Linked DNA regions of Homo sapiens: region 2 is linked to region 1. The links come from fine-mapping of genetic effects on gene expression. Tissue or cell type: monocytes. Region 1 holds a variant in brackets; the other region holds the start of a gene. All regions are shown on one strand. Distances are between the middles of the regions.

Region 1 (8,228 bases):
ATGTCATATTAAAAGTATTGTCTTAACACTGCCACTTGGAAAAGCCATGTGCCGTTGTCCTAGATGACAGCCCCAACTGAGATCCCAGTCAACTACTGGTACTAACCACCAGAGTGAGGCATCTTGGATATCTAGCCTAGCTGAGCTATCAGATGATTTAAGTCCCAGTTGACATATGACTGCAATGGTAGAAGAAACTCCAAGTGAAAACTTTCCAGCCTAAGCCTTTCCCAAATTTCTGACCCATAAAATTATGTAAAATAAAAAGATTACTTTAAGCCGCTAAGTTTTGTAGTAATAATAACTAGAATATCCAAGGGTCATGGAGCTAAGAGACTTAGTAACAGGACTTGGGCTAGAACCCAACTTTCCCTTCTCACCTAGGGTATTCCTGTGGCCCAAGGTAATCAGATAAGACACTGGATCAAGACAAATATATATACTTGTTGTTAAATTCCATAATATTCTTTGAGTACCATGGATTGCTCCTACATTGTGTCAGAGGCTGTTAAACACAGGGGGTGGCATTAAAAGAGGATACAATGCGTGGGGGAAAAGTTGTCAATTTCACTTCATTCCCATATTCCTGGGAAGAAAAAATCATAACTGCTGGAAAAATGATGGATGTTCAAAGAGTATGTGCAAACATTTAGATAAAGAGTAATCTTTACATGATGTTTTAATTATCATACAGTATAAACATTATCATTTTTTTCATTAAGATAGGAAATTATCATTGTTTTCGTTAAGATAGGAAATGAAACCAAATAAAATTTGTGAAAATGTCAGTCATCTTTGGGAAGGCCTCAAATGAACAAGGGAGAGTCTTGAGCTTGGTATCCTTTCATCTTGGAAGAATTCATAGCTGGGAATTGGCTAAAGCTTTGCAGTGGGTTGAATGATGGTTTCCAATGAGATCTGTCCATGCCTTAGTCTTCAGAACTTGTGAATATGACCTTATTTGGAAAAATGGATTTTACAGGTGTAATTAAGTTAGGAATCTTGAGATGATATCATCCTGGATTACCCAGGTGGGCTCTAAATCACATGAAAAATGTTCTCATAAAAATTTCAGAGAGAGTGAAGCCTGCAGACACCTTCATTTCAGGCTTCTAGCCTCCAGAACTATGAGATAATAAATTTCTGTTGGTTTAAGTCACAAGATTTGGGCAATGCATTACAGCAGCTCTAGGGATCTAATACGAGCTCCTTAAAAGAGAGTTGTAAGAGACCTGGAGGAACAAGGCTGTCCTCTTAGGGTAACAACAGTGACTACAGCACTACGACCACATAGGTAGATGTGGGACAGCAGTCAAACTCATATTAGGAGTTTCTCTGCAAAAGTCAGACATTTTTTGCTGCCAGCTGTTTTATTCCAGAGACAGTACCAATTAGAACATGCTGATCATATGCTGTTGGTTAGTATGTCTGTCTCCTCAGCTGATTTGTGAATTTCTAAAGACCAAGAGCCTTCATTTCTTTCTTCGACAAAACTTAATTGAAAGACTGTTATATTCTCCACTCTTTGCTAGGTGCTAAGATGCTGAGTAACACATAGTTATTGTTTTCAAGATGCCAGCCGACCTTGGGTGATACACCACATTGCATTCAACTAATGTTTGATGGAGGAAATAAATATGGATAGATAAAATGGTTTGGAAGAGTAGACAGTTTTTTACTGACAGAGACCTGGGTTCAAGTTGTGTAAACCTGGATAATTTCCTTAATGGTAAAATGGAAAAAAGTAACACCTACCTTGTAGGGCTTCTAGGATGATTAGCATATATTTAAAATATAGGTCCCATATAAAGTACATAATTTCAAATGCCTGTAATGTTACTAATAAATGAGGAACTAATGTTCCAGCAAAGATTATACCTTGCATCCTTGCATTAATATTTTAGTACGTTTTCCATGTGTTTTTACTTATTTCATTTTTCTCCAGCTTTATAACGTAGGCAGGGCAGGGATGATTCTCACATGGAACAAAAGAACAAGACACTGAATCCATAAAAGAAGAGGATGGTAATGGAGCTAGACAACCCCCTAGATTTCCTGTCTCACAGGGCCCTGTATTTCCCACCACAGCCATGCCATTCACCTGGTTGAGAAAGCCCTTCAAGGATAAAGGGTGGTCTACTCACAATTACAGTTTAAACATGACTCATCTTCCTTAACAGTCAATTTTACCCAAAAATTTGGGGAACAATATATCCTTAAAATACTGCAACAACACAGCTTCACTTTAAAGAATGCAAAAACTGAATTATAATAATGAATACTTATGTGCATCAGTCTCTGTTCTAACCATTTAAAAAACCAGTATTTCATTTAACTCTTACAACTTTCCCAAGTAGATCTCATCATTATCCTCCTTCTACACATTAAGAAACCAGGAAATAAAAACAGTTAAAAGACTTACACAAAGTTACAGTTAGTGGCAGAGCTGGGATTTGAACCCAGGAGATTTGGCTCTAGAGGTTCCAATTTTAACCACTTTGTTATCAATGTTTAGACAATTTATTATGAATATTTTAATGGACCTAGGGTACCAGGGCCACAGTTATTTTATTCTATTGTCTATCATTGTGGGCATAGGTCAGGGGAAGACACAGGAGAATTTCAGAAGCACTGTGCTACACAGGCAGTTTACAGAAATGATTTTTAAGGATCAATTGTGTGTGTGTGTGTGTGTGTGTGTGTGTGTGTGTGTGTAGAGAGAGAGAGAGAGCATGAGAGAGCAAGAGAGCAAGCATTTCACAGTGTGTGCAATTTTAGCTTAATTAGAATAGGAAGACTATTAACAAGTTATTTTTAAATGCACCAAAGATCAGGAGGCGTATTAGAATTAAATTACACCATGTGAGGCTGATTGGCAGCCCATGTAATGTGGGCAAGTTCACAATCTTGTCTTTTATCAGCACAGTTTGCAAAGTAGGCCTGAAAGGCATGGCCCCAAACCCATAGAGGGTGGAGCTATAGTTATTCAAGTAAAAAAAAAGAAACTAGTTGGAAATGTGATAAGCAATGATTAGCTAACCTATTTCAGGAGGAAAATGAACAAAATGAGCAGATGCCGACTGTAGTGGCTTTAGTGAAAAAGGATAGATACACTTGTTTAAATGAAAAGTTCTCTGTCACCTGAAGACAGAATTTCCCTTAGGACCAGACCATTAGTGTGTCATTTGCATAGAGAGCTTAAAACAAAAACAGCCACCACAAATAGAAACTCCTGGGCACAAATATAGACTGCATTCAAAGGATGCTGACTGGTGCAAGGGACTGAGTCCATGCTGAGGGCACTTGGAGACCAATTGCCAGTTGGGAATGTTCCTGACCTTGCAGTAGCAAGAACTAAAATAACCCCAGCAAAACAAAGCGTGGAAGAAGGGAGAGGGGTTAGAAGACCTTGGCTCCTGTTTTGGCTGAAGCTCTTGGGCTGCAGCCCGGAGCCCATGTGCATTTGAGGAATAACTTTTCCTCCCTGGGTTCCCTCATGGGTAACTCCCTCCTCTCCAGTGCTAACTGCATCTGCCTCCTCATTTTGGACTGTTGAATCAAAAACCCTTGAGCTCTCCAGAGGCTCCACGTTGTTACCCCCTAACTCCAGCTTTATCTTGTGTTCAAGGTGGGGGTTTGATCCCTGGAGTCCAACTGCTTCAGTTCAAATTCTCATGCTAATGATTGCGACCCTTAGCTAGACCTTGCTCTCTGCCTCAGTTTCCTCCTCTATAAGATGGAGGTAAGATACTTCGCAGGGTTGTTGAGAGGATTTAAGCAGATAAGGTAAAACAGAGAATAGTGTTTGGCACTTACCAAGTACTCAATAAATGTTAGGAATTAATATGAATTTGCCTCCTTGGGTAGAGCTCCCTAACTTCAATTATTCCTATTAACACCTCCTGTAGTTGTCATGCATGAGTGTCGTCTACTTAATGTATTTTAATAATCAATTCAAGTTTTTAAACTCAGCCATATTTCAAGCAATATTATTTGTGAAAGCCCAGGCTGTGTTAATGATTTTTTTCTAATGTATGTTAATGATCCACTAAAATAAAGGTGGATCTATTTTTATAAAGGTGGCACAATCTTAAATCATCTCAGATACCAGTACACATTTCACACATTAGGAAACACAGTCTACACACATTCACTCATCTTCCAGTTGTTCTCTCAGCAAGCATGTAGACAACACTTACCATGTGAATGGAGAGGAAGTCAGGCAATAGAAATGGAAAAGCACCTTTTCTGCCTCCACTGAGCAGAGACCCAGAGAGAGATGAGAACAATGATCCAGTAGCAGAGCTTTTCTTCATGGGGTAGCCTTTTGGTCCTGCTTGGGCAGGTCAGTTCCCTCAGGAAACAGCAGGAAATAAAGAACCAAGCATGTCAGGTGTTCCAAATTCCAGTTCCAAGACAACTTGGCCCTGCATCCAGATTCTACATGGTGAGACCCTGGGCTTCTTATCTGAGCTCTCTGACCATCTGTTTCCTCATCTGTTAAATGGGCATAGTATGTACCTCACCGAGCTAGTGGAGGATTCAATCCGATGGCATAGCGAGTACTCAGTGAATGAGCGCTCTCCCCCGATTATGTGTTCACACAGGACCCACGTTTCCTGTCCTGCAGACCTGGGGACTGTACCCATTTTCCTCTGTTGTAAATGCTCTCTAGGTTTGTACCTAAAAATCTGCTTCTTTGCCTAAGCAGTCCTTGGCATACTAAACCAACTTAACACTGGCCAGCATGTAGTGAAGGCTTTCCAAAAAGTTCAAGACCCATCTTCAAAAGCCTAATGTGTCTTCTTACCACAATTTTATCTTGTATAGGATGAGGCTTGTAAAATCTCATTTTACACATGATGAAACTGAGGCATGGAGAGGTTAAGTAATTTGCCCAGATCACAAAGCTGGCAAAT[A/G]GAGGAGCAGGTAACCTCTACAGTTAGTAACCACTAAAATTGCTACTAATAAAGACAAGACTATAACTAAGGCCCACAGTAGGACCACATCATCTAGCTCAGTGATTCTCCACTGAGAGGAACTTTGTCTTTCAGGGGACATTTGGCAATGTCTGGAGAAATTTTTGGTTGTCACAGCTGTGGGGTGGGTGCTACTGGCATCTAGTGGGTGGAGGCGAGGGATACTGCTAAACATCCCACAGTGCACAGGACGGCTTCCCTCCCTCCCAACACACAATTATCCAATGCAAAAATAAGTCAGCAGTGCTAAGGTTGAAATACCCTGGTGCAGGCACTATGACATTAACTATTTAGAACCCAGTCGATAACTAAGAAGAAGCTACAGAATCTCTCAGATTCCAAAACAGGTAGCATGAAGTTCAGGCAGAAAATCTCGTGCACTTTGTCACAAGAAATGACCAGGAGACAATTTCCTAAGGCATATTCATCTCACCATTCATGTAAATCAATTAAAAGCACCAAATGGATGTGGTATCTGGGTAGAAAAGGGAAGCATGGAATATGACAAGAGTCAAGAAGAGAGCCAACAGCTTGCTAGTATGAGGAATAGAGAAAATAGAAGAAGCGGTAGAAACACTGGCTGTGAAAATCCCTGCAAGAAACAGCCATGTGGATAGAGGCAGCTCCTGAGACTGTGGGAAGAGGTCTTCTGGGCATTCAGAGGGACATCATGCCAGGACGCCAGCATGGCAGGCAGGCCATGAGCAGCATCTGCTTCATCTCATATTACTGAGCTTCTGTGACTTTTTTTTTTTTTTTTTTTTTTTTTTAAGGACTGTGAGACTGTCAGTTGAGAAAGACAGTATGAAAAAGTTGGAGATTATTTACTTGGTGACGTTTTCTGCATAAATTGCAAAATAACCAAATGAGGCAAATGGATTTAGCTACTAGGAATGGGAACAGGAGGCAGGATGCTCACCTGAGTATTTTGCTTTATTCAATCTAATAAACATTTTATTTATGTAAAAGACAAACAATGCATAGAATAAAAATAAGTGCTTGAGACTTTTGATATAAAAAGAGTATATAGCATTCACATTCCTATTTTAATACATGAGTACAGCTGAAGTGTTCCATAAAAGAATAAAACTTTCCCTTTATGTATAGTAGTGAAAAAAGTCAGTATTTTTAGGAACTACAGAATGTTATTCCTTGGTCTTTTTTCTTGAATAAGAAAAAAAAACATAAACAAAACAAGCCACAGTATCCTCTGACACTACATTCCAGTTTATGCTGATAACCCAGAAGTGAGAATACTCTTGAATCTTGAATATCTCATGAATGGACCAGTATTCTAGAAACTCACCACTAGAGGTCAATGGGCAACAGCTATTGGGATGGTATCAGCATGCCCTACGGTGCAAGTGGAATTTCTAGGCGCCTCTATGCTACTGCAGCCACACTGTCTTTAACTCTCAGCCCACCCACACTGAGGAGGGTGCCTAGAGGTTCTATTTCCAAACCTTTGCATGTATCTTAAAAATCTCAATAAAATGAGACCTTCCACCATCCAAACAGAGCTGATATTCTCACTACCAGTCCCTCTCTAATATTCCTATTTGGCTGAAAATAAGTAGCTTCAAAAAGTTTTAAAAAAGAGATTACTTGCAGCATTAACACTTCTTTGTTGATTAACAAGTTTCCTATGGAGTTTTAAAGCTCATACTTTGTTCTTGTCCTTGTGGACACAAATTTTCTAACTGCAAATGGGACCTTTGTGTCCCACATTCAAATCCTCTCTAGTAATTTCTGCAAAGGTTGAGAAGGCTGGCATGATGGAGAGAACGGTAACCATGAGGAAAGCTTCTTGGAGTAAAGCACTCCTCTCTCCAATGCAGAGGGTAAAACTATTAACATATAAGCAAAAGAAACTTGGGCTAACTGAGACCCTTAAAGGAGTTCCCCTTTAGTCCAATAAAAGGCCAACTTCAAATCTTAACACCAGATAAGGTAGTCAAAATCATATTATATACCCAGAGAATGACTGCTTGAATGGACATTTCTTACAAGGGACCTTGGTTAGGTGCAGATTTAATTCCTAGACTGGGGTCCAGGTAGGCAGTGGAAAGAGCTAATGTTTACAGTGAGAAGTGAGGCAGCTTTGTAAGTGTCTCCACACCTTCACATTTTGTGAACGTGGACTGGAGATAACTGAAAACCATCTGCTATCCTTACCTGGGGATCCAGATTTTCCTGCAAAATCTCCAAATATTTATAAAGTGGCTTCACTTTTTGAAACGCTGTGCTGACCAAACAAAACATATGTTTAGAGTGCCTGAGGTCATAGTCCTGACAATGATAGTATTGTGTAGTTGAAATCCTCTTCATCAGGCCAAACTGTGCTTGAGCAATCAGGAGCCCAGAAAGATGGAACCCATTGGTGTTTGTATAGAAAACTAGAAAATCAAGTCAAGTGTAATGAAAAAGTAAACACGATAAAGCCTAGAGTGAGAATTTGCTCCTTTTTAGAAAAGGATGAAGGCTGGGAGCAGAGAATAGTAACATAAGTGCAGGGGAAAGATGAAAAAAAGAACAATTTTTCATTAGTAGATGGTGGGGCAATCGCATGGATGGGGACATCTGTTCTGATTTTTCTGCAACCCATGAAGGTAAAAAGTGGGGTTCAAAACATTCAAGGTATTAAAGATGGGGTAGAGTTTCTAAACTAGGTTGAGGGAGAGTTTCTAAACTAGCCCCCCAGATTTGGGGCTTGGAGCTTAAATGAAAAGTCCAGGAGAAATAAGGGCACACAGGAACCCCGGGAACACTGGTCCTCAAACAGTGCCACTGTACTTAGTTCCATGGCCAGAAGAGAAGTGCTAGGCAGGGAATGATTATTTTGCAAAAGCAAGTGCAATGTGGTCATAGCTGGCTGTGAGACATGGAGCCTCTTTCCTCATGCAAAGTTCACTGTTTTACAGTCAGAGAACCACTGCATGTGTGATTGTCAAATGCTAATGCTGTCATGGGTCCCTTCCTTCTCTGCTTGGTTCTGGAGTTCTCCAATAAAACCAATTTCCTGGGAATATTTGATGTTTTTCCTTGTCTCTTTTCAAGGTATGGCTATATATATAGAGCTATAGACATATATAGATATATATATATATATATAAAACATAGCTATTCATATTTATATACAGGCATTAATAAAGTGCAAATGTTATTGGCTATTGTAAAAATCAATCTCATTTCCTGAGGAAGTGCTAACACAGCTTATCCTATGACAATGTCAAAGGCATAGAATGCTCT
Region 2 (8,168 bases), 89 kb after region 1:
GCTCACATTGTGTGTATGTGTAGTGACACAAATAGACTGGGAAAATGTGGGCTGTGGTGGGATGTGAAGCAGCAGAGTCAAATGGGAACCAGGTCAGAGGCCCCTGGTAAGCCCAATTAAGGAGTTAATAGTAATAACAGAAGCTGATATTTATTGAGCATTTACTATGTTGCAGGCACCATGTTAAATACTTTAAAACAATATTTTATTTAATCCTCACCATAACTCCATAATCCTCATTTTACAAATGAGACCAGGGATGACTAGTAGGTAAAGCAACTACAACAGGCTACACAGCCAGTACATGGCAAGTGGGTCTGGAACCCAGGACGGCCTGATTCCAAAGTTTATACCCTACACTCTTCTACCACCAGCCTATCCTCAAAGAGAGCACTAAATGAACGCATTGGGTCCATCATGCTGGCTATGGAATGGAGAATGCAATTAAAGGCTGCCCAACTGGGGCTCCGTGACAAGGCAGGGATAGGAAAGAGACAACAAATTGATTCAAAAATACATTCAATGGGACCTAGAAGGAAACATTCAACATGCACATCCTCCTAGTGCATACAACAACAAAAAAAAATGAGGCTTTTGAAAATGAGGTGTAGAAAATAAAACACCAGTATTCCATAATGCTTTCAAATATAAACAGTTAAAACACGTATCCTTTTCTTTACTTATAACATGCTCCCAGCTGTTAAATTCAATGGCAAAGACCAGGTCTGTCTTATTCATCTGAGATGGTATCCCAGGTCTGAGCATCCTGCCTGGCAAGAGATACTCAATAAATATGGTTGAAAAGGTAGAAGAAAAAATGCCCAGTTTTTGCAATGATATCAGAGGTGCCTTATTGATCCAGAGTTAAAAACTAACCTTACTGAAAAAATTAAAAAGTCATGTTCATAACTGAGTAGAAAACATGTAGTAGTTATGTTGACTACATAGACAACAGTCATCATTAGGGAATGCTACATTGAAAAGAAGGCAATGAGTTCAAAATGTGATTAGTATTTTGTATAAATCATAACTCATTAAAAATAAGATGTTGAGTGGCCTAAAGGTGGAAATGTGTTTTTATGAGGCGGAAAAAAAGCACGAGTAGACTGAAGATCAGATTTGGGGCCTAATGATGTCTAGTCTCTTACCCTGACAAAATAAGCAGGTTATTAAAGTGATGTGAAGAACCTGATCACTATGACACTTTTACAAATTCTTTGTCCTCAATAAGAATCTATCTACTTCCAGGAACCTGAAAAGTCATATTTTTCAGACCTGAAGAGTTATTGTGCACTTTACAGTTTTCCCCAAAAGAGTCATTTCTTAATTTTGATCATTTAGGAAGAGTGAATCTATTAAGTCAAAAACGAAGAAAAAAAAACTTTCTATTTCTTAGTGAAATTTGTTCTTTTATTTAAATCCTTTGCATACTACTAAACAGAAGTACAGAAGCTACTAAACAGAAGACAGATTTTTGGGCCTTTTTAGGTGACGTAAAAGGAGCTTGTTGTTTATTAAACAATCTCATTACCTGATATATTATCTTGCATTAAGATATTTTGAAAAAATGTTTTCAGTTTACCAATTACGTTAGAGAAATTCTGAAACTATTTACTTACATGAAAAATTAAAATGTAAGTAGAATTAGGTTTCTCGTCTTCAATATATCTGTCTTCAACCATTGGCCAACTTTGAAAATTTAATTTGAATCAAATGAATACAAATTCAAAATGATTCATTAATTCAACCATTTTGAAACTTCAGTTCTATAAAAATATGAAATCTGTGGGCCTTGTAAAACTGTCTAAATACCCAAATAAAAAGCCACCACGTTTTTAAGCTAATTGTTTAAAAGTGTGTATATTGATGAAATGAAAGTGACTCGTGAACTATTGGGTCTGGAATTTGCAAATCATAAACCTTATCCTTGTAAACAGAACCTAACTAACAACATCAGGGCCTGCTAATTTCCTTCTTTTATAATCTGGAACAAAAGTTGTAATGATTTTTAACATCCACAGAAAATTAAGGGTGCCATTTTAAATATTTATTAGCAAAATGTCACTTAGGTTTTAAAAGTCTGGAGGAAAATGAGAGACAATTGAACATTCTGGTACTGCAATGCAGGAAAAACGCCAAGAACGAAACACTAAGATTTTATTAAAACCATAGGACTCAAATGTGTGTCAAGACTTTTTGCTTGCAATAGTGCCTCTTCCTAATTTGATTAAAAGCTTCCATCTCCATGCCACCTTCAATGTATGCCATAATTTTTAAAAAGTTCCCAATCCACTTCAAACACTCTAAAATTTACAACTGACCGTGATGCGCATTTTTTCTAGACAAACCTAAAGGTAAATCTGCCCATGTCCCTGGATAAATAAAATGAGTGCCTCCGGGTGATGTGGACTGTCAACTCCTCTACATTTCATCCAAAGTCTACATGGGTCATCTCCAAGTCACCAGAAGAGCCAGGGGAAAGGAGGGGAGGGGCACGATACGTAAGATGTTAAACATGAAGATGATGTAAAATTACCCAGATTCAAGCTGGCCATTTTACAGATGAGGAAACTAAGGCCCAGAAAAAGCTCTATGACTTGCCCAAATACTCGGTTACCCAGACCACAGCTGCAGATACTGTTATTTGGATCATAGCTGCAAAAAGTCTAACTTTTGGCCGGGCGCGGTGGCTCACGCCTGTAATCCCAGCACTTTGGGAGGCCAAGGTGGGCGGATCACGAGGTCAAGAGATCGAGACCACCCTGGCCAATATGGTGAAACCCCGTCTCTACTAAAAATACAAAAATTAGCTGGGCGTGGTGGCACGCGCCTGTAATCCCAGCTACTCGGGAGGCTAAGGCAGGAGAATCGCTTGAACCCAGAGGCAAAGTTGCAGTGAGCCGAGATTGCGCCACTGCACTCCAGCCTGGTGACAGAGCGAGACTCCGTCTCCAAAAAAAAAAAATCTAACTTTTGAAGTCTCAGAGGTTTTACACTTTCCATAACAAATAGTTAAGAACCCCCATTCCTGCATGCATATATATATTAATATTATATATATTTATATATATAATTATATATATATTTATATATATATAATATATATATATATTTTTTTATTTTTATTTTTTCCTTAAAAACCTTCAGAGACAGCGATCAGGTGGGTAGCCTAGTTAGGATTTTAACCCTTCGGTTTCCAACAAACGATAATTGCATAGAACCATCAACTCCCTGAAGACAGGACTATCTTGTTCCAGGCAAAATCTACAGCCTCTAGCACCCAGTAGGCATTCAGTGAGGGATTCTCGGTTTCACCTGAGCATCTCCACTCCCTATCCATCCATGCCAAGGCGTCAGTGGAGCCAGCTAACTTTCTTTTGGAAATCGATTATTTTCTTGAAACTTGTTTCCAAAAACTCCGGGCCAAGAAGCCGGCCTGAGGGAAAGCGTGGCCGTCTCCAGGAGCTAAGGACTGAGGAGCTGGCCTTTTGAACGGGTGGCTCAGAAAGAGCTGGGTGGGCACGCGGCATCGCCATGGGCGGAGTGGCCCAGGTGCGCTGGCTGCTTTGGCAGCTCAGGCTGCCGCTCCGGGCCGCTGCTCCCCGGCCGCCTTCAGATAACCAACTTCTCAAACTTCCCTTTCCGGGGGTGGGGGCTCGCCTCGAACGCGGCCAACACAACGCCTTTCCTGCTCGCACAAAGGGGACCAAACGTGCCCCGCGCCCCTTGCAACTGAACTTTCCTTCTCTTTTTCAAGAAAAACTCACAATCCCTGCAGCTACGGGAGTCGGGCTGCGTGAGTGTCGCGGGGGAAACTTTCCTCGTTTCCGCCCGGGGGCCGGGTTGCCGGGCCCGACTGTCAAGCGCAGCGGAGAGGCGGGGACCCCAGGAAGACCCCCGGCGCCCCGCCGAGCCCGGGCTGGGGACCACTCACCCGACTTCTGAACGTGCGGTGGGATCGTGCTGGCGATACGCGTCCACAGGACGATGTGCAGCGGCCACAGGCCCCTGAGCAGCCCCCGACCCATGGCAGACCCCGCTGCTCGTCATAGACCGAGCCCCCAGCGCAGCGGACGGCGCCTTCCCGGACCCCTGGCTGCGCCTCCGCGCCGCGCCCTCTCCGGACCCCGCGCCGGGCCGGCAGCGCAGATGTGCGGGCCAGATGTGGCGCCCGCTCGCCAGCCAGGAGGGGGCCTGGAGGCCGGCGAGGCGCGGGGAGGCCCCCGGCGGCCGAGGGAAGCTGCACAGGAGTCCGGCTCCTGTCCCGAGCGGGTGCACGCGCGGGGGTGTCGTCGCTCCGTGCGCGCGAGTGACTCACTCAACTTCAACTCAGCGCTGCGGGGGAAACAGGAAACTCCTCGCCAACAGCTGGGCAGGACCTCTCTCCGCCCGAGAGCCTTCTCCCTCTCCTCGACGTCCAGCCCCTAGCTCTCTCGTAGCTGCCAATCATGTTTCCTAGACCAGCCCCTCCGAGAGCTTTGGCCGACTTTCAGCTGCCCCTCACCGCCCTCCCACACCACTCAGGAGTTCCTCGCTCCAAGTATTTACTCAAGAATGACTAAGTGCACACAGTTCACAAAGTAACAACAGAAAACGTCCACGTTTTCCCTAGTAGATCAGAACATCTGCCGCCTCCCCTCAGCTTTCTTCAGATTGCTCCTAGGTGCTTTAGAGATGCGTTTTCAAATTGCAAGTTGAGATCCAGGAGTGAATACTCCAATCTATTGAGTCGCGAGCACATTTCTTTCCCAAATAAAATAGTAACGGTAAATTCTACTTCATTAAATTTGTGCTTCAGTTGTGTCTATATGCATGTATGTATGTGCATACACTGTCAAGTTGTAAAATGTTTTTCTTTAGGTCGAAGTCTAGAGGTTTTTCTCAAGTTTTAATGTACATATTGATCACCTGGAAATCTTATTTAAAAATGCAGATTCTAATTCAGTAGGTCTAGGAGGCAGGCAGAGATTCTGCATTTCTAATGAGCACCTGGATAGAGCGTCCCATTTTGCACCGCCTCTTCCCGGGACTGAGTCAGTGAGTAATTGTAAATGATCACCTATCACGAAGTGATAGTGGTGGGAAATGTAATTTTCAGAATGTATAGAGTATAGCAGAAACTGTAAAATTAAAAGTGGGTTGGGAGTCACCTGAATGCTTGTGCTTTTATTCCCTTAATGCAGGTGAAGAAAGAGAATACTTACCCTCTCATGTGCAAACGGGGTAACATGGGAGCAGAACAGTATAAACTTTCAAATTTCCTTTCTTGCTAGGGCAACCAGATTTGCCCAAGACATTCCTGGTGTACATGTTTTGTAGTTTAAATATTAATAGAACCCCCTTTCTCTTTCAGATATGTCCTGATTGGATAATAAACTATGTGATCAACCTACTTCCCACTCTCAAAGATATGATTCTGTACAGCCCTCTGGTCAGTAGATCTTCTAGCAATTCATTTAATGAATTCCTTTACCTGAGAGGAAGATTGCAGAGGCAAGGGTTTGTGCCAGGGTCTCCAGGGAATAAAGGTAAATAGCCCTCCCCCAAACCCAACTCCCAAATCTTTCCTGTCATTCTAAGTGTTCATTTGCTTCATCCTGGAATTTTAACTCATGCTCCACCTAGCACCCAAGCTGCCTCTGGATGTTTTGCCACTTCCCAGTACTCATGTTGAAGATGCAGAAAGTGCAGTGAAATCAGGAGGGCTAGGCATCTTCTTTCCCACCAATTAATTGCCTTGCCAAAGCTGGAGTGACTTTGTCAATGGAGGAAGATTGAGTTCCAAATCTTCTCCCTATTCCCTCTTCTGCCACCAGCCCATGCCACTGCCATGGCTTGTGTAGGAGTCTCCCACGAGTCACCCTCAGCCACGGCCGTTCTGGGCTCTTTCACTCAGTTTCTCAAACGAGAGCTGAATTCAGCTTTTCAAAATACAAAACTAGTTATACCAACCCTCTGATTAAAATCATTTAATGGCTTCCCACTGCTCTTGAGATAAAGAGAAGATAAAAACCAGATCCTTGAACGTGTCTTCAAGCCTCCAACTCTCCCGTAAACTTTCATTTGGCTTCTCCTTGCTTACTGAAAGCCTTCTCCAAATTTCGTGAATATGCCTCTGTAATCCTCCTACCCTTTATGCTTAGAGCCTTCCCCAGTGTGGACTTCCTTCCTCTGACCTTTTTTTCTTCACCCAGCCAACTCCTGGTCTTCGTGGATTGAATCATAACTTCTTTGATGGGCAAGCTTTCCCTCACCTCCATGAGTAGATCTTGTATTACACGTTCTCTTGGCACCATATGCTTTTCTTTTAACAGCTGTAACTTTATAATTATTTGTGTCATTCTTTAATTTATATTTCTATCCTCCACTCAACTCCAAATTTCTTGAGGGCAGGTATTATGTATCTTTCCCTCCACTTACTATTGTGTCCCTAAGCATCAAACACATAATCGATGTTTAATAAATATTTGTTGGATGAATGAATGAATCAGGCAATAAAGATTTAGAAGAAAATTGTATTTGATTGTTCTAGTTGCTTCATAACTCTGGAGAAAACATTGTTACCGAATATTTGAGATATAAACAGACTACATTTTAGCCGAGAATGATGTCACCACTACTTCCTTTTCTTAAGAATGGAGAAGTATGTGGGTTTCTTTCTTCTTCTTTTTTTTTTCCTACATTTGCCCAAGTTCCTCCAGATAGCAAACATGTACTTTCTTTCTCCTGAAAACACAATGTGGCAAATAAATGTCCAATAGATTCCAAAAGCTTTGTTTTCCTTAATTATCACAAAGATGTTTTACATTGTTGGAGGCTAGATATTTAAATCTATGGTGGAATGTTTAACTGGTGGTCTTTGCCATGATACATCATTAATGTTGATTTTAATTTTGTTTGCCCTTAACATTTCTGATTTAATCTCCAGTCTCCTGTGAAATTGAGAAGAATCAGAATTCAGCATTGCCAAGTGCAAGCTAGCCTTTTGAAAATCATCATAATAAAAATAATAGATGTGTAAACTCATGCATATTGCAATTTGATAATTTTAAAAATTCATCAGGCTGAGTGCAGTGGTCCACACCTGTAATCCCAGCACTTTGGGAGGTCTAGATGGGAGGATTACTTGAGCCCAGGAGTTCGAGACCAGCCTAAGCAACATAGTGAGATTTCATCTTTACTAAAAAAAAAAAAAAAAAAAAAAAAGCCAGGCATGTTGGCATGTATCTATAGTGCCAACTACTCAGGAGGCTGAGGTGGGAGAATCACTTGAGCCCAGGAGACGAACGCTGCAGTGAGCCATGATTGTGCCACTGCACTTCAGCCTAGAAGACAGAATGAGACCCTGTCTCAAAAACAAAAAATAAATAAAAGAAAAAGAAAAAAAAATTGTCATGATGCCCTTCCTTTTGAAATTCTTGTTGAAAGGGATGTCTGATACCCTTAATCAAGACATCATTTTCACACATAGTTGTATATTTGGCTTAGTATAATATTTTGTGTATTCACATAAGCAGTTAATATATACATGTAAAAAACTGGGCCATTTGCAAATGGGAACAAAAAAATAATAGCCCGACTCAGGGTTTAAAAAACAAGGAAGGTAACGTTTAAGCCCTTAATGAGTTGAAAAACAATAAATATCAACTTGAACAGAAATTTTAAAAGCTGACAATCTATTTTACCAGCTTTTTAAACTCTGCACGCACACACAAACACACACAATTGAACTGAATCAAATTGTGGTTTATTTAAACGTTGGGTTTCTCAGTTGTGATGAGAGAAGAACTTCCTACTCCCCTGAGCTTTGTGACATGCAGCTGTTGAGGTTACTGTCAGCTAGAGCAGTTAACAGGGAGATTCCTCTCCTTATAAATTAACCAGCCTCATTCTCAGCTCTTATCTCTTGACCAATTTTCCTTTTATTGTGAAGCAAACCAATAAGCACTGAGACTGTAGTTAATTTGTGAGGGTCATCCACCCTTTGTGGGTCATCCATGATGCTACCTCCTCCAGGAAATATTTTGTGATGCTTCACCTACTGTGATCACTCCTTTCCCAGGGATAACCCAGGGAACATTTCGTTTATTTAGCCTTTTTTTAAAAAAAAATGTTTGCCCCATTCTAACATGGAGTACATTATTGTTATTTATTTGCTTTTTAGAATT

What was found. PIP is the estimated chance that this variant, and not a neighbour inherited with it, causes the effect.
Region 2: TGFBR2 starts here. The variant in region 1 is fine-mapped to the expression of TGFBR2 in monocytes (TOPMed, PIP above 0.99).

The regions. Positions count from the first base shown.
Region 1 is chr3:30,691,773-30,700,000 of GRCh38, reverse strand. TGFBR2 (transforming growth factor beta receptor 2) reads right to left here. Exons shown (of 7, transcript NM_003242.6): 7 at 5,859-8,228. Among named protein-coding and RNA genes, the nearest start is that of TGFBR2, 89 kb to the right of the region's middle. The variant A/G (reference allele first, on the strand shown) is at 4,920.
Region 2 is chr3:30,602,744-30,610,911 of GRCh38, reverse strand. TGFBR2 (transforming growth factor beta receptor 2) reads right to left here and starts at 4,311. Exons shown (of 7, transcript NM_003242.6): 1 at 3,935-4,311. The coding sequence starts at 4,028. LOC105377015 (translation initiation factor IF-2-like) reads left to right here and starts at 3,988. Exons shown (of 2, transcript XM_047449400.1): 1 at 3,988-4,766; 2 at 5,354-6,513. The coding sequence starts at 3,988. The coding sequence ends at 4,428. RefSeq lists a silencer at 4,138-4,237.